Homo sapiens: one gene and its partners. The protein of the gene in region 2 purifies or fractionates together with the protein of the main gene of each other region. This does not show direct contact. Each region holds a gene or a part of one and is shown on either strand. Other genes may lie near its edges.

What was found.
Region 1: the proteins of L3MBTL1 (region 2) and EHMT1 purify together in Homo sapiens (affinity purification with mass spectrometry; 2 studies listed by BioGRID and IntAct, with this or other methods). This does not show direct contact.
Region 3: the proteins of L3MBTL1 (region 2) and KDM5C purify together in Homo sapiens (tandem affinity purification; one study listed by IntAct). This does not show direct contact.
Region 4: the proteins of L3MBTL1 (region 2) and TUBB6 purify together in Homo sapiens (affinity purification with mass spectrometry; one large-scale study listed by BioGRID and IntAct). This does not show direct contact.
Region 5: the proteins of L3MBTL1 (region 2) and TASOR2 purify together in Homo sapiens (affinity purification with mass spectrometry; 2 studies listed by BioGRID and IntAct, with this or other methods). This does not show direct contact.
Region 6: the proteins of L3MBTL1 (region 2) and MECOM purify together in Homo sapiens (affinity purification with mass spectrometry; 2 studies listed by BioGRID and IntAct, with this or other methods). This does not show direct contact.
Region 7: the proteins of L3MBTL1 (region 2) and ZNF644 purify together in Homo sapiens (affinity purification with mass spectrometry; 2 studies listed by BioGRID and IntAct, with this or other methods). This does not show direct contact.

The regions. Positions count from the first base shown.
Region 1 is NC_000009.12:137,622,005-137,625,504, forward strand, and holds part of EHMT1 (histone-lysine N-methyltransferase EHMT1), read left to right. Parts: intron 1-3,500. UniProt on the Homo sapiens protein: Histone methyltransferase that specifically mono- and dimethylates 'Lys-9' of histone H3 (H3K9me1 and H3K9me2, respectively) in euchromatin.
Region 2 is NC_000020.11:43,528,197-43,531,696, forward strand, and holds part of L3MBTL1 (lethal(3)malignant brain tumor-like protein 1), read left to right. Parts: intron 1-460; coding exon 461-549; intron 550-1,006; exon of another isoform or gene 1,007-1,067; coding exon 1,068-1,172; intron 1,173-2,087; coding exon 2,088-2,223; intron 2,224-2,601; coding exon 2,602-2,693; intron 2,694-3,500. UniProt on the Homo sapiens protein: Polycomb group (PcG) protein that specifically recognizes and binds mono- and dimethyllysine residues on target proteins, thereby acting as a 'reader' of a network of post-translational modifications.
Region 3 is NC_000023.11:53,208,208-53,211,707, reverse strand, and holds part of KDM5C (lysine-specific demethylase 5C), read left to right. Parts: intron 1-52; coding exon 53-211; intron 212-850; coding exon 851-1,032; intron 1,033-1,131; coding exon 1,132-1,294; intron 1,295-3,500. UniProt on the Homo sapiens protein: Histone demethylase that specifically demethylates 'Lys-4' of histone H3, thereby playing a central role in histone code. Does not demethylate histone H3 'Lys-9', H3 'Lys-27', H3 'Lys-36', H3 'Lys-79' or H4 'Lys-20'.
Region 4 is NC_000018.10:12,318,241-12,321,740, forward strand, and holds part of TUBB6 (tubulin beta-6 chain), read left to right. Parts: intron 1-2,295; exon of another isoform or gene 2,296-2,422; coding exon of another isoform or gene 2,423-2,504; intron 2,505-3,500. UniProt on the Homo sapiens protein: Tubulin is the major constituent of microtubules, a cylinder consisting of laterally associated linear protofilaments composed of alpha- and beta-tubulin heterodimers.
Region 5 is NC_000010.11:5,740,338-5,743,837, reverse strand, and holds part of TASOR2 (protein TASOR 2), read right to left. Parts: coding exon 3,341-3,500; intron 1,742-3,340; coding exon 1,312-1,741; intron 1-1,311.
Region 6 is NC_000003.12:169,086,713-169,090,212, reverse strand, and holds part of MECOM (histone-lysine N-methyltransferase MECOM), read left to right. Parts: coding exon 1-213; intron 214-1,029; coding exon 1,030-1,213; intron 1,214-3,500.
Region 7 is NC_000001.11:90,980,536-90,984,035, reverse strand, and holds part of ZNF644 (zinc finger protein 644), read left to right. Parts: intron 1-1,665; 5' UTR 1,666-1,682; coding exon 1,683-1,726; intron 1,727-3,500.

The DNA of each region.
Region 1 (3,500 bases), on a different chromosome or scaffold from region 2:
TGCACAACGTGCAGGTTTGTTACATATGTATACATGTGCCATGTTGGTGTGCTGCACCCATTAACTCGTCATTTAGCATTAGGTATATCTCCTAATGCTATCCCTCCCCCCTCCCCCCTTTTTTTTCTTTTTGAGAATGAGTCTTGATCTATTGCCCAGGCTGGAGTGCAGTGGCCCGATCTTGGCTCACTGCAGCCTCCGCCTCCCGGATTCAAGTGATTCTTGTGCCTCAGCTTTCCTGGTAGCTGGGATTACAGGCGCCTGCCACCACACCTGGCTAATTTTTGTGTTTTCAGTAGAGATGGGGGTTTCACCATGTTGGCCAGGCTTGTCTCGAACTCCTGACCTCAAGTGATCTATCTGCCTTGGCCTCCTAAAGTGCTAGGATTACAGGCGTGAGCCACCGCCCCCGGCCGATCATCTTCTGTCTTTCTAGAGAAGAAGCAGCCCACTTGCATCTCTTGAGCATTTACTTCATGTTTCTAAATATATGTTTGTATTGTCATGTCTTTATTCACCAACTTTAGGGGTCGACTATGGACTTCCATTAATGGTGAATTAGTGTAAGATTTAGATTAGAGAAGATTTTTGTTCTCTTATGTTCATCCTGCCCCAATCAGAATGTATGTTCTTGGCCAGGGCCAGCAGCTCATGCCTGGGAGGCCGAGATGAGAGGATCCCCTGAGCCCAGGAGTTTGAGACTAGCCTGGGCAACAGAGTGAGACCTTGTCTCTACTAGAAGTAAAAAAGTTAGCTGGGTGTGGTGGTGGTATGTGCCTGTAGTCCCAGCTACTTGAGGGGCTGAGGTGGGAGGATCGCTTGATCCCAGGAGGCCAAGGCTGCAGTGAGCTGTGATTGTGCCACTGCCCTGCAGCCTGGGTGACAGAGCAAAATCCTGTCTCAAAAAAAAAAAAAAAAAAATACAGCCAGGCGCGGTGTCTCACACCTGTAATCCCAGCACTTTGGGAGGCTGAGGTGGGTGGATCACGAGGTCAGGAGATCGAGACCATCCTGGCTAACACACAGTGAAACCCTGTCTCTGCTAAAAATACAAGAAAATTAGCCGGGTGTGGTGGCGGCCGCCTGTAGTCCCAGCTACTCGGGAGGCTGAGGCAGGAGAAGGGCGTGAACCCGGGAGGTGGAGCTTGTAGTGAGCCAAGATCATGCCACTGCACTCCAGCCTGGGCGACAGAGCAAGACTCCGTCTCAAAAAAAAAAAAAAGAAAAAAAAGAATGCATGTTCCCTCTGCCTGGTACACAGCATCATCCAAAGGAGTCTCCTCACCTTTCCCTGTGTCTGATGCTGCTCACTGTTTATTCCCTCCTGGTGATGGAACACACTCTCCGTTAGCTAGCCAGGAAGGTGTGGTAAGCGGTGAACTTTTGGGGTTTGCGTGTCTGAAAATGTATTTACTCTTTTTTTTTTTTGAGATGGAGGTCCGCTCCGTCGCCCAGGCTGGAGTGCAGTGGCACTATCTCTGCTAACTGCAGCCTCCGCCTCCTGGGTTCAAGCGATTCTCCTGCCTCAGCCTCCCAAGTAGCTGGGATTACAGGTGCTTGCTACCACGCCTGTGCCTGGCTAATTTTTGTATTTTTGGTAGAGACGGGGTTTCAACTTCTTGGCGAGGCTGCTCCTGAACTCCCAACCTCAGGTGACCTGCCCACTTCGGCCTCCTAAAGTGCTGGGACTACAGGAGTGAGCCTCCGCACCCGGCCGCAAATGTCTTTATTCTGCCCGTGCGCTTAGTAAGTTTGGCTGGTAGGTTGGAAAGTCATTTTGAAGTCATAGCTCCAATATCTTTCAGTTTTCATTGTTGCTCTTGAGAAGTCTGGTTTGGTCTTTTTTCTTTTTGAGACAGTCTGGAGGAGTGGTTCAATGATAGTTCTCTGCAGCCTTGACCTCCCGGGCTGAAGTAATCTTCCTGCCTCAGTGCCCTGAGTAGTACCTGGGACGGCAGGTGTGTGCCGCCATACCCGGTTGATTTTTCTTTCTTTCTTTTTTTTTTTTTTTTTGAGATGGAGTCTTACCCTGTTGCCCAGGCTGGAGTACAGTGGCGCCATCTCGGCTTACTGCAACCTCCGTCTCCTGGGCTCAAGTGGTTCTCCTGGCTCAGCCTCCTGAGTAGGTGGCATTAACAGGTGTGTACCATCACGCCCAGATAATTTTTTTGTATTTTTAGTAGAGACGGGGTTTCACCATATTGGCTAGGCTGGTCTTGAACTCCTGACCTTGTGATCTGCCCACCTCAGCCTTTCAAAGTGCTAGGATTACAGGCCAGGCATTAGGCACTATGCCCGGCCTCTTTTTTTTTTTTTTTTTTGAGACATGGTTTCACCCAGTCTGGCATCCAGTTGCCCAGGCTGGCATGCAGTGGTGTGTGATCTTGTCTTTCTGCAACCTGCCCGGTTCAGGCAATTCTCCTGCCTCAGCCTCCCGAGTAGCTGTGATTACAGGTGGGCACCACCACGCCTGGCTAATTTTTGTAATTTTAGTAGAGACAGGGTTTCGCCATATCGGCCAGGCAGGTCTCGAACTCCTGACCTCAAGTAAGTGATCCACCTTCCTCAGCCTCCCAAAGTGCTGGGATTACAGGTTTGAGCCACCATGCCTGGACTCCAGCTGATTTTTGTATTTTTAGTTGGGATGGGGTTTTACCATGTTGGCCAGGCTGGTCTCGAACTCCTGACCTCAAATGATCCATCCGCCTCAGCCTCCCAAAGTGTTGGGATTACAGGCGTGAGCCACTGTTCCCGGCAGTGATTTTTCTGTTTTTGTAGAGACAGGGCCTTGCCATGTTGCCCAGGCTGGTCTTGAACTCGGCCTCCTGAAGTTCTGGGATTAAAGGCATGATCCACCGAGCCTGGCCCAGTTTCATTCTTCTTTTTTTTTTTTTTGAGATGGAGTTTTGCTCTTTTCACCCAGGCTGGAGTGCAGTGACGCGATTGGGTTCACCGCAACCTCCACCTCCTGGGTTCAAGTGATTCTCTTGTCTCAGCCTCCCAAGTAGCTGGGATTACAGGCTCCTGCCACCCCGCCCCGCTAATTTTTGTATTTTCGGTAGAGATGGGGTTTCGCCATATTGGCTGGGCTGGTCTAAAATTCCTGACCTCAGGTGATCCACCCGCCTCAGCCTCCCAAAGTGCTTGGATTCCAGGCGTGGGCCACCTTGCTGGCAAGGCCCAATTTCATTCTTAACCGTTTGCAAGCACTATTCCCTTGCCGAACCTTTAGGATCGTTGCATCCGTGATTTTCCTAATATTTATCATGCGTTTAGTGCTAGCCTTTTGTTATGTATTATGCAGGTGCCTAAGTAGCTGTGAAATCTGAAGATTGACACCCTTTCATTATAGGAGGTTTTTTGTTGTTGTTGTTGTTGTTGGAGAGAGACAGTCTCACTATGTTGCTCAGGCTGGTCTTGAACTCCTGGGCTCAAGCAAGCCTCTTGCCTCAGCTTCCAAGTAGCTGGGACTACAGGCACGTGCTACCATGCCTGGCTAA
Region 2 (3,500 bases):
TTCTTGTTTCTCCCAACCCTTCCACTTCTTCCTATTTTCATGTTTTCTCTCTCATTTCTCTTTTTCCTCTCCTTTCCTTGTGAGTTTAGATGGCATTGTGATTAAGTTCTCTGGCACAGGACTTGTCACTCAGCTTTGTCATGTCAGAGGACAGGGTCCCTCTGTGGCTGAGACTTTGTAACTTCAGTCAGTTGCTGAATAATCCAGAGTACTTCTGCTGACAGTGGCCTGAGCGGGTGGGGGGGAAGTGACGGGCAGAATTTGGTGTAGCCACACCTGAGACTGAGCCTCCCCTCAGCCCCGTGTCTGGCACCATCATGGTGGGTGGGACCAGAGGGTACATGTGAACACAGACAAAGATTTGTTTTGGGGGTGAAGGTAGAGCTTGGTCAGGGGAAGCCGAAGAAAGTCATATATCAGGAACAGCCCAGGAGTTAGCCTGTCTGTCCCCTTTCCACAGCAACAGGTGAGAAGAAGGAATGCTGGTCGTGGGAGTCCTACCTAGAGGAGCAGAAGGCCATTACTGCTCCAGTCAGCCTCTTCCAGGACGTGAGTTGGACAATTTCCCCGTAGGAACAGCTTGTCTTCCTAGCCTAGGGACACACCACCAACCTCAGGCCTTCTGGCGTTTTCTGTGTCAGGCATGCCTCAGTGGACTGGCAGAATGGAAAGGGAGAGACTGTTTAGGGGCCCAGAGTGGAAAAGGGCCCCCCATAAGGGGCTGGCAGGGTGGGAAGAAACAGAGAGGTGGAAGCTAGGCTCACTCATCACTGGGCCTGCAGACTTTTGAATTCTGGTGACTTCTACTCAATTCAGCATTGATCTTTCCATGACTTTGGTGAGAGGGAGCCCTTGAGTCCAGCCCTGACTCACCCACATTTTTCAAGGGACCTGGGAGATATTCTCTCTCTCTCTCTCTAGATCCCTGTAGTAACGATCCCCAAATAAGTTGCCCCTTTGGAAATACCAGGCGGGTGGGGCCTAAAGGCAGCTCCTTCACCCCAAGCCCACTAGGCAAGGATAAGGCTGGATGGAAGCTGGGTCCTCTCCACTCTGTGCGTTGACAGTCCCAGGCAGTCACTCACAACAAGAATGGCTTCAAACTGGGCATGAAGTTGGAAGGCATTGACCCTCAACACCCGTCCATGTACTTCATCCTCACCGTGGCTGAGGTGAGCTGGGGCTTGGTACCACCTTTCTGATGATGTCTCTCAGTGCAGATTGATGGATCTTGCTGGGGACATAGAAGGAAACACCTCCCTCCCCTCAGAGCACACACAATCTAGTAGTGGATGAAGCTGGAATACATAGAAAGCTTAAAACAACAAAAACCAGATGGAGTTCATGGGACAGTCCTATTATTGGATGAATGTATACTGTCCACTCTGGGGGAGCTTGAGGAGATCCCGAGGGCCAGGGATGTTGGCATGAGTCAAACAAGGTCCTTGTCCTCTAGGAGCTCACAGTTGTCTGGGGAATCAGCCAAATAAACATGTCAGTGACATGCCACAGGGGTGGCAGCAGACTTGAGCTGGGAGGCACAGTTGGGTCAGTTCTGTCTGAGGAGCAGCAAAAGCATAGAGGAAGGGCCTCCTTTGCAGAGTCTTGAGAGATAAGTTGTGAATAAGGAGGGAGCTCCAGGCAGAAGGAGCAAAGTGGGCAAAAGCCCTGGGGCATGGAACAGACTGCTACCTTCAAGGAATTGCCACTAGCTCAGCAAGACTGGAAGCAGAGTGCGAGTGGGGAGCAGTGAGAGAAGGTAGCAGAGGGAGCGGTCATCAGGAGCCCTCAGCAGTCCTGAGCCTTGGTGGCTGCCCTCAGAATTCTGTCCAGGGCTCAAAAGGGCAGGAAGCTGTCATAGGGTCCACCTCCCTTGCATCCAGAACTCAGGGCTCATGAGTACATGAACTGTCCTCACTGTAGAATAGGACAGGGTGGGGTACAATTGGGAGGAAAGAAAGGTGGGGTTGGGGAACCTGCTAGCATTAGAGCCCCTGAGACCACCAGACTGGGCCAGGAGAGGTGAGGCAGATGGGGAGTGGGGCATCTCCTGACATTGGAGTTCCTGATTCCCCTCATGGGGCCAGGTATGTGGCTATCGCCTACGCCTGCACTTTGATGGGTATTCTGAGTGCCATGACTTCTGGGTCAATGCCAACTCCCCTGACATTCACCCTGCTGGCTGGTTCGAGAAGACGGGCCACAAGCTGCAGCCTCCCAAAGGTAAGGCCTAGCTGGGTTGGTCACAGTGAGGCAGTGAGTCCTCAGACCCTTCGCTTCTTCCCCTTGGGTCCCCGGCTTCCAGCTCTTTTGTTTTCTGACCCTGTACCCTGTTCCAAAGCCAGCCTCTCTTCATCGCATCCTGATGACTCTGCGCTGGGGCCAAGTTGACCAGAAGCCCTAGAACTTCCGCTTTGCACTTGCCCTTTGAGTGTCTACTCAAGTCGTGTCCTGCTTCAGTAGTGGGGAATCCCTGGGCAAGTTCTTGAGGGTTGGGGGGAGGTCCTCAGGCATGCCTGATTCTGCTGCTTCACTGTGGGGTGCCCTTGCTGTGGCCCAGCCTCTGCACGGCGCTCTGTTCATGCCCCTCGAGGGGCCTAGGTTACAAGGAGGAGGAGTTCAGCTGGAGCCAGTACCTGCGCAGCACAAGAGCTCAGGCTGCCCCCAAGCACCTGTTTGTGAGCCAGAGCCACGTGAGTGCCCCTGAGTGAGAGTGGATGTCACTCCCATGTGCCAGAGTTCACTGCAGCTGGCCCAGGGTATCTGACTCATCAGAAGGGAGCTCATGTGCTGGTTCTCTCAGCTTTGTTCTGATCTCTCATATCAGATGGGAGGGGTACAGCTGGGCAGGGTCCAGGGCCAGAGATGGGAAGCTGGTTATAGGTTTTTCCCGACTTCCCTCCCTCCTTTGCTACTGCAGATACCCTGTCCTCACATCCCCTTGGAGCCCCTGGCCCACTACCCTAGTCTGAGCACTGAGATGTCATTGCTCATATATTCTTGCTTTGGCTTGCTCTGCAGTTCTTTGGTGTAAGGTCAATGCCTCTATTCTGGGAGCTTCTTTTTCTTTCCTTTTGCCCAACATTGAGACTCTTCCATTTATTTCCAACAATTCATCCCTTGTCCTTTCCTCTGTTCAGGGCAGCTGGCAGCTTATCCAGCAGTTAAAGTATCTCATAATCCCAACCAAAAGGCCTAAGAGATACAGGGAGCCTCCATTAAAAATATCATACTGGACCAGGTGTGGCGGCTCATGCCTGTAATCCCAGCACTTTGGGAGGCTGAGGCGGGTGGATCACCTGAGGTCAGGAGTTCAAGACTAGCCTGGGCAACATGGTGAAACCCCCATCTCTACTAAAAATATAAAAAATTAGCTGGGCGTGGTGGTGGGTGTCTGTAATCCCAGTTACTCAGGATGCTGAGGCAGGAGAATCGCTTGAACCTGGGGGGCGGAAGTTGCAGTGAGCCAAGATCACGCCATTGCACTCCGGTCTCAGCAA
Region 3 (3,500 bases), on a different chromosome or scaffold from region 2:
GTGGGTCCAGGGTGTGATGGGCCATAGTCATCTGCTACCTGTCTTCCCCCAGATGGTGCCCACAGAACTTGTGGAGAAGGAGTTCTGGAGGCTGGTAAATAGCATTGAGGAAGATGTGACTGTTGAGTATGGAGCTGACATCCATTCCAAAGAATTTGGCAGCGGTTTCCCTGTCAGTGACAGTAAACGGCACCTAACCCCCGAAGAGGAGGTGAGTGGATGATTCATGGTTACGTGTCAGCTGTGTGAGCTTAGGCAAATCATTTAGTATCTGAAAAACTCAGTATCTCTGTAAGATGAGGATAATTATGCCTGTCTTATGTAGCCATGAGATTTAGATGAGATGAAAGAAAACAGTCTGGTACCTGGCATGTACAAACATGAGATGGGTTCTTTCGCCTCTGTGAGCCCATTTCCTTATCTTTAAAATGGGGATAATATCTACTTTGCAAATTTGTTATAAAAATTAAATGAGAAGGTATATGAGATCCTGGCTCATCCATAAGTAGTGTTCAGGGAGTGGGGTTTGTATGCACAGGAGAAAATGAGGGCCTAGTTGTGCTTCCAAGAAAGGGTACATTTTGATCCAGAGCAGGATTTTTTTAACTTGCAGGTATTTTGGTAGGTGGATATATCGGTAAACTTCGTAGAAATTGAAGTGAATACAATTGAAATTTTGTGTGTATGCTTTTTGGTGGAGAGGTAGGGAGAAAACCTATATGTTTCTTAAGATGTTTCAAAAAAGTCTCTGACCTCAAAATTAAGGTTCCCTAGGCTAAAGAAAATGACTTAAGATCTCAGTTCCTTAGCATAACCCTCATGCCCTTTTTACAAATACCTGACCTGGCAGGAGTATGCTACCAGTGGTTGGAACCTAAATGTGATGCCGGTGTTGGAACAGTCTGTACTGTGCCACATCAATGCAGATATCTCTGGCATGAAGGTGCCCTGGCTCTACGTGGGCATGGTCTTCTCAGCCTTTTGCTGGCATATTGAGGATCACTGGAGTTACTCCATTAACTACCTCCACTGGTGAGTGGGACCCTGGGGAGCCAGGGAATCAAGTCAGTGTGGGCTCCCTGCATGACCAAGGTGTGATTTACTGTGTGTGTCCCTTTTCCACTTGTGCAGGGGTGAGCCGAAGACCTGGTATGGGGTGCCCTCACTTGCAGCAGAACATTTGGAAGAAGTGATGAAGAAGCTGACACCTGAACTATTTGATAGCCAGCCTGACCTCCTGCACCAACTTGTCACCCTCATGAATCCCAACACCCTCATGTCCCATGGTGTGCCAGTGAGTACCCAGGCAACAGGGACAAGCGGCAGGAGTGATTTAGTGATGTCCTTTGTGATGGTGGTGGTGGCGGTGGTTGTCATCTGTATTCTGCCCCTGGCCTTTCTTCATTGCTGTTCTTAATTGGGCTACGGGTTTGACTAGTCTAGTAGAGACCCAAAATAATAGTGATTAGATGCACCGTATGATGGTATGCCCTCTGGGCCATGTGTTTGACGGTAACAGCTAAGGGGTGGCTTATTATCACATCTACATTCCAGCCAGTGGAAGAGGGAAGTGGGGAAGTGCAGGGCTAGACAAATCTTTTAAAGGCACACATCATTTCCATTCACCTTCTGTTAGTAAAAACTTGGTCATATGACCACATCTAGCTGCAGGGAAAACTGGGAAATGTAATTCTTATTTTGGATGGTCAAGTACCACTTAAAACTGGAGGTCATGTTGTTATGACAGAAGACAAGAATGAATATCGAGGTACAACTAGCAGCCTCTGCCATACTTTGTATACTCTTACCCTTCTCAGAGCAGTGGATAGGTCTTTTTATTTAACAGGTCAAAAGTTGAACCCAGAGTTCTGGTCTATCCTCTGTGTACTTCTTTCTTACCCTTTAAAACATTTTGCTGGGTATACAACATGGCTTACCTGTGAGAGACTTTATATTCCTGGGAATTTCTAGCATTGATTAGCATCAGCCAGTTTTCTGGTGTGGATCTTAAAACAGCCTGATCACTAGTCCTGTAAGAACAGGAATTAGTAGATCCTCTATCTCTGCTTTAAGTATTATCCGGGGCTGCTACTCTTCCCTACACCCTTCCACGCTCTTTGGCCTTGGACACATTACCACTTACTCTAATGTATGAGATAGTCAATAAATACTGAATTAATGTCTCCTTCAGATATTCCTAGATATCTGTACAGTAGGGCTTTGGACTAGGTCAGTGGTTCTCACCTGCATTTCTTTTTGCCTTCTCCTTGTTTTGGTATACTATATGCCCCATGAGTAATATTTTTTTATTATAAAATTTAGTGATATTTAACCAAGGACTTGGGATATCTAGGGAATTGGACAGAAGGAGGTGTCCTATAACAGTTCAGGCAATCTTCCTCCACTCAGGGAGTTATCCTTTTCTCTCTCTACCTCACCCCATTTAAGGATGATGATCAAGGGCTTGAGTTCTGCTGCTTTACAAGTAGACATGGGGTCTGACTTTCCTTAGACTTCTCTCTTCCTGACCCATAGCACAGCATCAGTCCTTGTCTATAATGCCATGGAAAACTGTAAAAGAGGATTCTCTTGGCCAGGCACGGTGGCTCACGCCTGTAATCCCAGCACTTTGGGAGGCCAAGGCAGTCAGATCACTTGAGGTCAGGAGTTCAAAACCAGCTTGGCCGACACGGTGAAACCCCAGTCTCTACTAAAAATACAAAAATTAGCCAGGTATGGTGGCGCACGCCTGTAATCCCAGCTACTCAGGATCAGGAGGCAGGAGAATCGCTTGAACCCGGGAGGCAGAGGTTGCAGTGAGCCGAGATTGTACCACTGCACTCCAGCCTGGGCAACATAGTGAGACCCTGTCTCAAAAAAAAAAAAAAAAAAAAAAAAAAAAGAGCCGGGTGTGGTGGCTCATGCCTGTAATCCCAGCACTTTGGGAGGCTGAGGCGGCCGGATCACCTGAGGTCAGGAGTTCGAGACCAGCCTGGCCAACATGGTGAAACCTCGTCTCTAATAAAAATACAGAATTAGCCGGGCGTGGTGGCACGTGCCTGTAGTCCCAGCTACTGGGGAGGCTGAGGCGGGAGAATCACTTGAACCCAGGAGGCGGAGGTTGCAGTGAGCCGAGATCGTGCCATTGCATTCCAGCCTGGGCAACAGGTGGAGAGACTCCATTTCAAAAAAAAAAAAAAAAAAAAAAGGATTCTCTGAAGGATTTGGGTAGCTAAGAGGCATATATATATATATGTGTGTGTGTATATATATATATATATATATATATATGTATGTGTATATATATGTATATATACATATGCAGAAGGTCATGGAGCTGTTTAGTCCTTACCGCTTTTTAAAAAACTTTATCACAGAATCCAAAATACGTGCTTTTTGCTTACACCTCCACAGCATTTCTCCTGCTCGTGGCTCATCATCTTCTCTGGCCAGCTGCTACTTTACCACCCAGCCCTCTGTCTGCCCTGCCCTTCCTATAG
Region 4 (3,500 bases), on a different chromosome or scaffold from region 2:
GGTGCTGCCTGCTAGGTTGGGTGGGGAAGGGGTGGAGAGAAGTTGGTGGGGGCTTAGGAAGGACGGTGACCATTTTCTCGCCTACTAAGAGAAGGCAGTCAGCTAGGATTCACTGTGCAACACAGCTGGGCAGGAAGAAGAGAATCCCCTGTTTGTAAGAGAACAGTCACATACTAGATGCTGTCTACGGCTTGTGAAAAACACAAGGAAACGGCCACCTGAGAGTACTAAAGTGGCCAGGCCCACGGGGTGTGCTGCAAGCACACAGCAGGCATCTGCCTAGCCCGGCCCCTCTGCAGAGCCATAGGGCCTGCCATGCCAGTGACACTGGGCTTTGGACTGCCAAATGGGGCAAAGACAATAGGAGAGAAAGGCTGAGCTGATTTCTCAGTGGGACTGAGACGGAGATCTAGGGAGGCTGATGCTGCAGACAAGTGCAAGGGCCCTCTGTGGTCAGTTTCAGCTGGCCAGTTCTGCTCTCTGGAAACTTCAGTGTTCAATATTTAAATGTGTGGTTTTGTTTGTTTGTTTGTTTGAGATGGGGTCTCGCCTTGTCACCCAGGCTGGAGTGCAGTGGTGTGATCATAGCTCACTGTAGCCTCAAACTCCTGGGCTCAAGCAGTCCTCCCACTTCACCCTCCTGTGCTAGGATTGCAGGTGTGAGCTCCCATAGCTGGTCTTATACAAAAAAAAGTGTTTAATGTTTTCATGTCAAAGTTAAAACAAAGTGCTTGTACATGGTTTTTTCAAACAGTACACATAGATTGTGTATACAGTGCAGAAAGGGAAAGCTGTCATCCCTTCTACTGGTGGCCCCTGAGGTTTTATTCCCTAGGGGGATAACCGAGTGTGTAGACAGTTGTGCTGTGTCCTGCTGACATTTTTCCTTTTTCCTTTTTTTTTTTTTTCTTTTTTTTTTTGAGACGGAGTTTCGCTCTTGTTGCCCAGGCTGGAGTGCAATGGCGCAATCTCGGCTCACTGCAACCTCCACCTCCTGGGTTCAAGCAATTCTCCTGCCTCAGCCTCTGGAGTAGCTGGGATTACAGGCACCTGCCACCACACCCAGCTAATTTTTTGTATTTTTAGTAGAGATGGGGTTTCCCCATATTGGCCAGGCTGGTCTCGAACTCCTGACCTCAGGTGATCCTCCTGTCTCGGCCTCCCAAAAGTACTGGGATTACAGGTGTGAGCCACCGCGCCCGGCCCTGCTGACATTTTTCTGTGTCCATGTGCACCTAGGTGAGCACACAGAGCTGATTTTGTCTGGGGAAAATGGGATCCTGCTATACACACCATTTTGCAGCCTTTTGAAAAATTCATTAATGTATCTCAGACATCCTCCGTGACAGTCACAGTGCCTACCATTGTATATGTCATCATTTAGTAATTTCCCACTTACTGATGACATTTTAAAATTTTTCATTAAAGAAGAGCTGGGCTCAGGCGTTCACACCTGCCATCCCAGCACTTTGGGAGGCCAAGACAGGATGATCACTTGAGTTCAAAAGTTTAAGACCAACATGGACAACATAAGGGGACCCTCTCTACAAAATTTTTCTTTTTTTTGACGGAGTCTCACTCTGTCGCCCAGGGTGGAGTGCAGTGGTGCGATCTTAGCTCATTGCAAGCTCCACCTCCCGGGTTCACGCCATTCTCCTGCCTCAGCCTCCGGAGTAGCTGGGACTACAGGCGCCCGCCACCATGCCATGCTAATTTTTTTTATATTTTTGGTAGAGACGGGGTTTCACCATGTTAGCGAGGATGGTCTCAATCTCCTGACCTCGTGATCCACCCGCCTCGGCCTCCCAAAGTGCTAAGATTACAAGCGTGAGCCACCGTGCCCAGCCAAAAAAATGTTTTTTTAATTGTCCCAGCTACTCAGGAGGCTGAGGCAGGAGGATCCCTTGAGCCCAGGAGTTGGAGGCTGCAGTGGCTATGATTGCACCACTGCACTCCAGCCTGGGTAGCAGTGGAAGACCCCATTTCTAAAATAATAATAATAAAAAATTCCTTTTTTATACTTTAATATTCACTTATCATAAAATAAATGTTTTAGTTAAAATGTCATAAAGCTAGAAATGAACTCTCTTAGGACCCCATCCTTCAAAGACAACCTGTGCTTTCTTAATTGCATTGTAAATGTTTTAATAAAGTAATTTTTTTTTTCATTTTGCTAGCTAGCTAGGTAAAACATTTTCATGGTTTAGGACTTAAAAGGAACAAAAGGGTATATAGTGAAAAGTTGATCTCCTTCCTACCCCGAACTAGTGTTAAGATTCTTGAATGTCCTTTCAGGTATGTTCAGGCAGACGCATATATTTACACACATACAATGGAGCCAGCTGTATACACTGTTTAGTACCCTAGTGTTCCTCCCTGGCTCCCCAGCAACGTATTTTGAAGATCTTTCCATTTCACAAGTATGGCTGCCTCATTCCTGTTGATGGCTGATAGTATCCTCTGCAGAGATACCGCCGTGGATTTAACCAGTCTTCAGTTGATAGGTATTTGGGTTGTTCCCCTTTTTATTATTATAAATTGTTCCTCAGTAAACATTTGTATATATGTCATTTTGCACATGTATGGGTCTATCTAGAAAAACTTACAGAAGTGTAATTGCTGTGTCTAGGGGGATAATTTTGATAGCTGTAGCTCAGCTGTTCTACAGCCCACTGCCCTTGCTATCTCCAGTAGCTCCCGTGGGAAGTGGCCTTCCCCAAACCCTCAGCAGTGCAACTCAGGTGTTTGGATCTCTGTCAGTTTCACAGCAGAAAAATAGAATCTCCTTGTTTTAATTTGCGTTTCCCTTATGAGAAGGGTTTAGCATTATTTCCAGTACCTAAGCTATTGGAATTTCCTTTCCTGTGAGCTGTATGTTTATAGCCTTTGCCTGTTTTCCTAATGGCTGTTGTTTTTCTTACTGATTTAAGGACTTCTTTAGATATTGAAGGAGGGTATCCTTTATATGTGATATGAGTTATTAACAGTCCAGTACATACATTTTAACATTAAGTTCAGTACACTTAATGAAGAATCACAGAATTTGTTTTTTCTTGCACTGAACACCTACAGTGTGTAGCACTGATAAATGCTTCATCCCCCCCAAGAGTAGAGCCACTGTGTAAGGCTGCACTTGTTATGTACTGCAGAAGCCAGGGGTGCCATCAGTAGACCTCATTGTGAGCAGGCCCGTGTCCCAAATTGCATGGGAGCCCCTTGTCCACTAATTAAAGATTGACAAGTGAAAGGCAGCTTGCTTACCCGATGTAGCACTTGGCAGCTCTCAGAGGCAGCCTTGGTGGTTTCACTGCTTCATAGTTCAGTGCCCCCAGGGTGAGTGCAGCATCAGGGATGGACCTGCCCACGTGAAACCAGAGAGGCTGGTCTTTGGCAGTGGCTGTGAATTGTTGCCACCAGCCGTGTGTAGACAAAAGTCAAGTTGGAGTAAGTGGGGAGAGGTCTGTATAATGCAATGCAAGTTTTTATGACTTGAATTAGTT
Region 5 (3,500 bases), on a different chromosome or scaffold from region 2:
TACTAAGGAGATTGTTAGGAATCACTGATTTGAACAGTCAGGCTTGCCAAAATCATTGCTAAAATTAGTACTGATGATAGTTAATTACATATTACCACGACAAATGGTATTTTATAAGAAACTAGCATGTATATATGTATTAATTTAAATCTCCCTGACTAGACTATATTTTCTTATTCTAAGGTGGTGATTCTTAACTGGATTTTATGTAATTCTTTGAGAATAGGATGGAACTGCTGAACCCCATCTTTAGGGGAAAAAAAAAGCACATACATAGTTAACATTTAGGTTTTCTAGACTGGAATCTTGGCTTGACAATTTTCTATGTGACTTTAGGCAATTTCTTTACTTCTCTATGCTTTAGTCTCGTCATCTATGTAATGGGGAGATTAATAGTCTTTAACTTATTTGAGAATGAACTGAGTTAATATGAGTGAAGGGCTTAGAACTCTTACTTTCTGGCACACAGTGACCCAGAAATCTTTAATTCTCATGATGATGACAATCACTTGAAGATATTCACGGGTTCTATGAGGCTCACCCAAGGACCTCCAAGTCCCCGGTGACCCCGGGTATAGGAACACTGTCTACTCTTTCTTAAGACAGGAATCAGAGATGCTGCCCAAACCCAAGCAATATTATTCTAGAATAAATTTGGGCGGAAAACTTTAAAAGGTAGGTAATTTTGTCAATTCATTTGCTTAGAATTTTGTTAACAACTTTTAGATTTGCTCCAGGTAAAATTTGGATTATCTGGCCTGGTTGAATGTCAGTTGAGAACAAGGAACAAAACAAAGTATATTTTCCATATTTACAAATAGTTATTTGCAATGGGTCTTCTTTCACAGGTCTGGCATTTTACTATTCCAGCATCTGTCTTCAAAAATAATTTTAATACAATTAATTTTAGTTTACTTTAAGGTTTATCAAAGTATATCTAAGATTTATTATTGCTATATTTGATCCTTAAACAATATTCTACATAAGACTTGATAGGTATTAAGTCACCTCTTTTAAAAATTAGGCAAAGAAGCAATTTGCCCCAAATTATGCTGGGCTCCCAGATCATGTGGACCCTGTGACATTTTTCTACTCTGGTTTTTTTCAATCGGGATGGCAGGTAAGCTCTACCTGCAGACAATTCAAGGACACTTCATGAAAACTAGGTTTTTGGTGTAATAGTTCTTTACATACCTTGAGAATTCACTGTCCTAAAATTTAAAAATGCCTTGTTTTGAATGTGATTTTACATATAAACATTTTTTTCTTCAAAAATAATGCCAACATTTAACGGTATTCAGCTTTACATACCTCATTATTGTAAGAACAGATGAAATTCTGGTCTTCTTGGGTGTCTGGATCACACTCTCTTGCAAAAGTTTTTTTCTGTTCATTTTGTACACAGAGTTCCAAGCCTTGGGTAAGTGGTGTTTTAATGAAAGGAAGCAAGCAGTTAGGATCACGGAAGGATACTTCAGCAGCATGAGCCCTGGAAATTTCGTTAGTCTCCAACAGAGAGTCTGCAGAACATTTTTCCAAACCAAGGGACTCCTCAATTTCACGGAGCTCACAAGATTCTAACGTGCTATTTATAGACACATATTTTGCTGGGTTGCTGTGTTCTACAACCTTTCGGGAAGATCGTATGATTTTGTTCTGATTGCTGTAAAACAGAGCTACCCACATATGAAGTAAAAGCTTCACTTCTTCCACATTATCAGGCAAATCAGTATTCCAGGGCCTAAGAGTTTACAGAAAGAACACATGAAAATCATTGAAAATGGTTATTTTAGTTGATTACCTTATCATAAGCAAGTGCCTCCAATATTCCTTAGTTTTTGTTTTTATTTTTAAAATTTACAGATATGAAACATGAATGAGTAAATATGTAGTTGACTTAACAAATAATTATCCATCTAACCCACTCATTTTACAGAGACGGGAACTGAGAATCAGAACATGTAATTGCCTTCTTTCAAATCACAAAACCTGTATGGCAGAACCATGATCTGAACATGGGTAGCACGTGTCTTTTACACCATACAAATTCACTCTGGACACAGAATACTTATTATAGAAATGGTTTCGCCAATACCCAAATCCTCATCACCATGCTTTTGCTAAGTCTGGCTGATTCATTTATTTTCCATTTTTGTGTCTCTCTTCTAATAATTGAGAAAGTCTGAAGATAAAATATCTCTCTGGGCAATTCAACAGAACTATACTATTTTCAGACTACAGTTCTGCAAAATATCCTGAAACAGTAAGGGGAAATAGAAAACATTTCTGGCCACCTGGCAGGCAAAAGGATGGCAGATCGCTGGAGTACCATAAGTCAGGGGGGCTGCAGAGTTGGGCAATAGCTAAACAGGAAGTTCTAAGGAAATGACCCTTATGAGTATATATGAACAGGTGTATAGAAGAAAGCCTGACAGCTGTAGAGTCCATATAGTCAGATGTGAAACAGTTCATTAATAGGGAGCTGAATGTCAATTCATATAGCTAATGAATGCTTGCTAACAGTGATGGTTACCATTTATTACTACTACTGGCCAGTCACTGTGCATCTCAATATATGTAACCTCAGGACACAGCTACATAATTAAATGTTGGCCACAGACTGTCATCCACCATTGATATCACCTGAAAATTTGTTAGAAATGCAGAATGTCAGGCCTCTCCCAAGGAGAATGCATCAAAATCTGCAGTTCAGTGAAATCTCTAGATGAGCAGCACACACAATTAAGAAGCACTGTCCAGAAGCAAGAAACTTGCCCAGGATCACAGGAGGTAAGAAAGGGAAAGAACCCGGGTTCAAATCTAGGTTAGTCTACACTCCAAAGCCTGTGCTGTTCACCACTCTGTTATTACTGACTTGATTCCTTCTTAAGGGAGATCTATAGAACAATCTTATGTGAAACTGCTTACTCCTATCAATCTGACCAATTTACCAAGCTACAGTGATTTTTAAAATGTTTCTTCTGGAATTCAGTCTGTAAAGCATTATTTCTAAATCTCACACTATTTTACATTAAGATCTCATCTAAAAATTGAAATTCAAAAGCCACAAGGGCTTACGAGGGAGCATTGCAAAATGGAAAGCTATTCATTAGGCTAAAATTATCTTTAAAAACTTCTCCACATGAGCACAGGGGGAAAACCAGCCTGTTACTCTTAATTGCCAGGAAACATGTTTGCTTGATGTTATTATCAAATTACTGGTTTTAAACACAACACTTCTTTCTCCTTCTCCAGAGTTTGGCATAAGTTTCCCCATCTCACTACATTCATCTCAACAGAAAAGTTTCATCCATTTTCACTAAGTTTCACTCATACTCACCCATGTAATGCTCTTACTACAGTTTTCTCCAGTGGGTTGTTGGTATATTTGCTGTCTAAACTGAATGCATATTCTGTTTCACATTTGAAAGTGATCTTAACGGAGTCATCACAGCTAAGCACTATACGAGAGCAAGAAGATTTTTTCACACGGGCAGACG
Region 6 (3,500 bases), on a different chromosome or scaffold from region 2:
TGAAAAGGCTTTGGTGACCAGTCAAAATTCAGACTTGCTGGATGATGAAGAAGTTGAAGATGAGGTGTTGTTAGATGAGGAGGATGAAGACAATGATATTACTGGAAAAACAGGAAAGGAACCAGTGACAAGTAATTTACATGAAGGAAACCCTGAGGATGACTATGAAGAAACCAGTGCCCTGGAGATGAGTTGCAAGACATCCCCAGTGAGGTGAGTACCTTGGGTGACTTTAGAAACTAAGCTAGAGTAGATCCATGTACGGTTGCAATTCCTCCTGTGATAAGCAATTTGTGAGTTATAAATCACAAAAATTAAACTTGAATTAGTAAGGGATACATGGTGGATCAGATTTAAATAGATGAAAATAAGGTGGCTATCAACATAATCCACAAGCATATAAATACATCAGGTTTGGTGCAACTCTGATTAACCTGAGGTGGGAAAGATAAAATGAAAATTACATAAGTACACAATCATTTATTGTTAGACTCTACCTATAAAACTCAAAGAAAAATAGAGATTTTGACGTTATCTAATTATACAATAATCTGGCATGGTCATCAGTTAAGTATAATTGAGATAAACTTCACTTCAGTAGATATATATGTGATCTATATAGATGATAACTTTTTAAATGAAAAGAAATAACCAAACAGTTAAATTGATGGGACTATTATATTTTCATGATGGATGTTGACTAAATATTGTCATAATTAGCTTTACTTTAAATGGAAATAATGAATATATGAATTCTGTCTCTGCCTATTACTGACTAATGTGTCACTGACTTTAACTCTTTATCTCAAATATATGCTTGGCTTTAGTTACTAAAAATCTTAACAGAAATATATTTTTAAGACATGATGTTTGTAAGTATTTATAAAAACCCAATAATTGATGCATGCTACTTTACCTTGCAGATACAATATGAAGTTTGTCAGTTGTATAGATAGATTCAAATGAAAGTGATTTGATTAGATAACAAATGAAAAGAAAATTTCTGTGTTTTTCGTTGGTTCATTTTAGGTATAAAGAGGAAGAATATAAAAGTGGACTTTCTGCTCTAGATCATATAAGGCACTTCACAGATAGCCTCAAAATGAGGAAAATGGAAGATAATCAATATTCTGAAGCTGAGCTGTCTTCTTTTAGTACTTCCCATGTGCCAGAGGAACTTAAGCAGCCGTTACACAGAAAGTCCAAATCGCAGGTACAGATTTTCCCATAGTACAGCATCATGGTTACATTATGCATGAAACGTACATTTCCTTTGATTACCAAAAAGCAAATATTCTATCTTTGAAATATTTTAGAATCCAAATGGGGTCAGATGCCTTTCTAAAAATGTTCATATCTTTACTGTATTTATGACCAAATCCAAAATAGTTAAGCAAGAAAGCAATTAATTTAGCTGCATTCTGTATAGAAATTTTATGACAAGCCCCATCCTACACTTATCTTTCCTTGACTTTGCAATTCTCTTACTTTTGTACAGTTAGTTCATCATGTTTGTTTACAAATATTTATGTATTACCTCAGAGTCATTTTCCGTGTCTATACTTTTGTCAATGTAATTATATTTTAAGATTTTTCTGAAAAGTGAATTCTATTTTTTGTCCCCTTCTATGTCTAGTAAATTGTTAGGTGTAGTTAATTAGCAAGTCATCTCATGTTGTAATTTAATAGTAAAATGAGGATCAGAAAGGAAGTGAGTTGCCAAAGGTCTACACCAACTTACTGGCAGATTTGGAAATAAAACCTGTCAATTTAAATTCAACAAATGAATGAGTGAATGAATGGTACTCAAATTTATTAGGCTCTACAACATTGTATCAGCACTATGGTAACTAAAAATAAATCTATTTAAGGGTCCATAAATAGCAATTAAAAGAGCCTCAGTGTTTTTGTTACAAAATAAAGGAAGTCGGTACTTTTTTGTTTGACATCCACACTCAACCGGATTGTTCATTCAGGTCAATTAAAAATAAAGAAACTTCCTATTACCATATTTATTGGGCACTGTGGTCTAATTGCCTGATCCATTAGTTCATTTTGTATGTGGCCTGACCTGCAATGTGACCATATTAGTTTGTACATTTGGAAATGATTTTCTATTTGGGTAAGATGTCTGGGTTTGTCTTAACAGCAAATGTAATAATATCCCAAGGAAGTTGGGAAAAACATTGTGTCAATGGGATAATACAAATCATTAAATAATATTCAATTTAGTAAAAAGTTCTGAGATATTATGTATGGTAATAGGTAAAATAAATGTTCTTTCTCAACTGAAGTTAAAGCAGCCACCATCTACAGAGGCTCCTAGAGCCTACCTCCATGAACTTAAGAACATCACTTAAAGACTATAGGTACCATTTCTTCATTGTAAAAGGGGTAAGTGGATTTTTATTCAATGGGGATAAAAATGAAGTTTCCAGTTTTTAACATTAAAGGTAAACTAGCTAGAGTAGACATTTCATTTTTACTTAGAGACATCCATAAGGGGTGGCTAGTATTTTTTTTTAACCCTTGATTTCCCATTCTTCCATCCTTGTTGATTAGAGATAACTTGAGTATCAAGGTTTTTGGTTTTTTGTTACTTGTTTCTTTGTTTTTGAGACAGGGTCTCACTCAGCTGCTAAGACTGGAGTGCAGTGGTGCAATCACGGCTCACTATAGCCTCGACTTGCTGGGCTCAAGTGATCCTCCCACCTCAGGCATCTGGATAACCGGGACTATTGACACTCACCACTATGCCAGGCTAATTTTTCAATTTTGTGTAGAGATGGGGTTTCACTATGTTGCCCAGGCTGGTCTCAAATTCCTGAGCTCAAGCAATCCTCCCACCTCAGCCTCCCAAATTACTGGGATTTGTATAGGTGTGACCCATTGCACCTGGCCATGGTTTTTTCTTTTTAAATTTCTTTTAATTAGTCCACCAAAAATGCTTCTTATTTATTGTAAGATATAATACCTAAACACTCCAGAAACTGCCAGAAGTGACAGAAAGCAAAAGGGCCTGAAAACCTACAGATAAGGGATATAATTATAATACATTTTAGTACCAGCATTTTGACATAAAGTCCCAACCCAGCTGGACTGTTACTGTTATAAGAAACACTAGCATTTTGCAATCCTAAGTCATATTTTTCTTGTTACTTGATCATGTTATATAGATTAGTTTGAAAATGGTCAGGCCCTTTTGCAAATTCACTTTATTTCATAATATCATTCATTCGTTCATTTATTAACTACCAGCTATATGCTGGGCACTGATCCTTATATATGAAAATGTTTATTTCCTTTGATTACCAAAAGGCAGATATGCTGTTTTGCCATTTTCTAGAATCTAAAGGCTCAGATGCTTTAGTCAAAGCATTCATATATTTATTCTGTAATTTTTATAGTCTGTAATTTTTATAGTGATTGAATTGAAAATAGTTGACCAGTACAATAGTAGCTGCATTTTGCATGTGCTCTCCCTCAAGAAACTCTATCCG
Region 7 (3,500 bases), on a different chromosome or scaffold from region 2:
GATACTGGTGGGTGCTGGCATTCCTGGCTATGGCCCATGTCCTTCCAGTCTACGAAAGCAGCATTTTCAGTTCTCTCTGCCATGTCTTCTTCTTCTTCCTCTTTTTTGGAGACAGAGTCTTGCTCTGTTGCCTAGGCTGGATGCAGCGACGTGATCTTGGCTCATTGCAACCTCCGCTTCCTGAGTTCAAGCAAGATTATCCTGCCTCAGCCTCCTGAGTAGTTGGGACTACGGGCGCGTGCCACCACGCCCAGCTAACTTTTGTATTTTTAGTAGAGACGGGGTTTCACCATGTTGGCCAGGCTGGTTTCGAACTCCTGACCTCAGGTGATCTGCCCACCTTGGCCTCCCAAAGTGCTGGGATTACAGGTGTGAGCCACTGTGCCCGGCCTCTCCGCTTGTCTTCTCATTGCCTTCAGTGTGTGTCTCGTTCTTATAAGGATACATGTGATTGCACTGTGGTCCACCCAGATAATTCGGAATAATCCTCCCTCTCAAGATCCTTAATTTAATCATATCTACAAAGACTTCTTCTTTTTTTTTTTTTTTTTTTTGCCATATGAGGTAACATTGTCAGATTTCAGGGATCAGGGTGTGGAAGTCTTTTGTGGGGCAATAGTTCAGCTTATCCCACTCAGTCGTTTATAATAGACTTTTAATGTTCTTACTTTTATTTTATAGTTTAGTTTTTAACAGGCCCCCATGTCCACTTCTGGGTTGGTGGGAGATGATGGCATTGGGTGGCAGAGAAAATATCTCATCTTTTCTAGATACGATGCAGAAAATTCTAGGTCTGTGGTTCTAGGAAGGACAAATCAGAGATGATAGTTTGGAAATAAAACAGTTAAAGTAACCTAGCTTGAGAACAGAGGTAGGTGTGGTGGTGCTATTTTTTAAAGAATAGAGAATTTAGAAGAGTCACAAGCTAGTTTCAGGTATGGGGAGGAGGAGATATGTAGAGTGTGGGACATACTGAGTTTTCAGAAGTTCTGAAATATGGTAAAATTAGTAATGGTGGATATATTTTTGGCAAATGCATGTTCAGTGGATTGTTGGTGTAGAAGTCACTTTATACTAGATTAAAGATTAAATTGAAGATGGGGAGTATTGATACATTCTATTCTCTAGAATAATGATGCTTGGCATTTAGTAAGTAATCAGTGTTGGCTATTATGATAATTACTGTGGTTGCTCTAACAAATTACTTTGTTATATACTTTTATGTGTATATACTTTTATGTGTTCCAATACTATAACATTTTTGTCTTCAGCTGTTTGGTGTGTGTCTTGATATGTACATAATATTAAATAAATACTGATCTAGAAAGATGTGTGTTTTAGTAATTATTTTAATTATTGCCATTGCCATACTATTAAAATTAATGAAAACAATTTAGAATTTTTTTTAAAAAAAAGAATTAGTTTCAATTTCTCATTTGAATAGATTATTATTTCTCAAAAAAAGCAGTGAGGTTGGGGGGCACTTAGCAATAGTTTCCTAAAGATTAAAATGATGGTATTCTGGTTGAATGGTTTTTTTATGTTATATCAAGAAATATAATTTGGTTTGTGTTTTTTCATTTAAAATAATAGTGTATTGTAGCTATGGTTATTCATGCCTGAAACAAAAAATTAAACCTTGGTCATTGTGTGTATTTCTTTCAGGTTTGATTTAATTTTGGATGAGATCGTTCTTGCAGCAAGATGTTAATAAGACAAAATCTAGGTAAGTAGAAGACTGCTTTGTTAAATGTACATATCAAGGTAGGAATAATACAAAAAAATTATGTCTTAAAAATGTGGTGTTGAGTTCAGAACCAAAGAGTTTTTAAATAAAATTTTGAAATGCAAATAATTGACTTTTTGACACACTTGGTCCAGTTGATTTGATGGGAGTAAAATTATAACTATCACATTGTGGAACTAAATTTTTAGTTTCCTTCTTTTGTGTTGAGGTTAACTAAAGCATTCAAGTTTCCAGTGAATATTCTAAAATGTTAGAAAATCAAGTTAATGTTTGGTTCAGCCACTCTTATTGAACTCTGACCACTTCAGTAAGACATTTATTGTGTCACTTCATTGTTCTCTCCTTTGTTGATAAAGTATATGAATAGTCATTGCTTTTGTGAATTTTGCTTCATTTTTAATGTTAAGGAAGCACTTTCCCAAATGGGATAAATTTGCCAAATTGTGATTTCTTTCTGTTAATATAGTATTCAAAATTGTAAATTATTGTTTTAATGTTTTCCTAGTGGGTGTCTCTACTGAATGACCTCTCTAATATAGCATTCTGATTAGCTTTCTAAGGCTGTTCACTTTTAAAAAATTGAATTGGCATCATGTACTTTGGTATGTGAAAGAATGCTTTTTAATAATATAAGCCGTTGACATGTTTTAAAAAGATACATTTACTATTTATTGGTAAGTGAATATGGCTTCAAAATGGAAACAAGGGAAAAAGAACATTGAAAAAATTGGAGTTAACTTGGTTTTCCCTCTAACCAGATGTTTCAGCTGTCAAAAATTTGCTGATCTCAATGTTTGTTAAAGAAAAAAAAAGTCTAGGATGAAAAGTGCTGTAGTTCAGTAATATGCACTGAAGGAAATCTCAGTCAGTGGTTTGGGCATGTTTTGAAGCAAAATTTTGCTTTTATTGCTATTATATAATAATAACAGTAGTGGTAGTTTGAAGAGTACTTATTGTGCTCTAAATTCTGTTAAGTGCTTGTCATACCTTATTGATCGTTATAGTACCTCCTCTTGTTGTGTAGAAAAATTTTATTTTTTGCTTTATAGTGGGCTGTTTTTCTTTAGGAATAATAATTTACTTCTGTAGCATTTATTAGAAATAACACTTGCCTATGTATCTTCTTAAAGTGGAGAAGAAGCCATTCTTTTGTACTTGAAGGTCTTATTAGGGTTTGTTTTCTAGTTGAATATACAGTGTCTGTTAAAACTTTTGTTCTGATTTTCTATGTTTGATATTGCTTGTGGGATGACACTGGTTTAACTTATTCTGACCTTATTTTTCACCATGCTTATATATGTAGTTTTTTCTTTTTTATTATGGTATAGTTTACATATATATGGTAACATAAAATTTGAGGTATAGAGCTGAATGACTTTTCACATACACATTCATATGTGTAACCACCATCTAGATCAAGATATAGAACATTTCATTACTTTGGAAAGTTCCTTGTGCTTTCCCCGCTTCCAGTCTAATAGCCTTTTCCCCTGAAGTAATCATCTTTCTGAATTCTGTCAGCATAATTTAGTTTTGCCTGTTCTTGGATTTTATATATAGTATGTACTCTTGTATGTGGCTTTTTCATTCAACATAATGTTCTTGAGCTTCATCTATGTTGTGACTATGTCAGCAGTTCATTATTTTTTATTGCTGTTTTATTTTTAGTAATATTCCATTGTATGAACACACTACAAAGTATTTATGTTTTCTCAGTGATTTGGTTTATTGGATTCTCCATATCTCTGTTCCT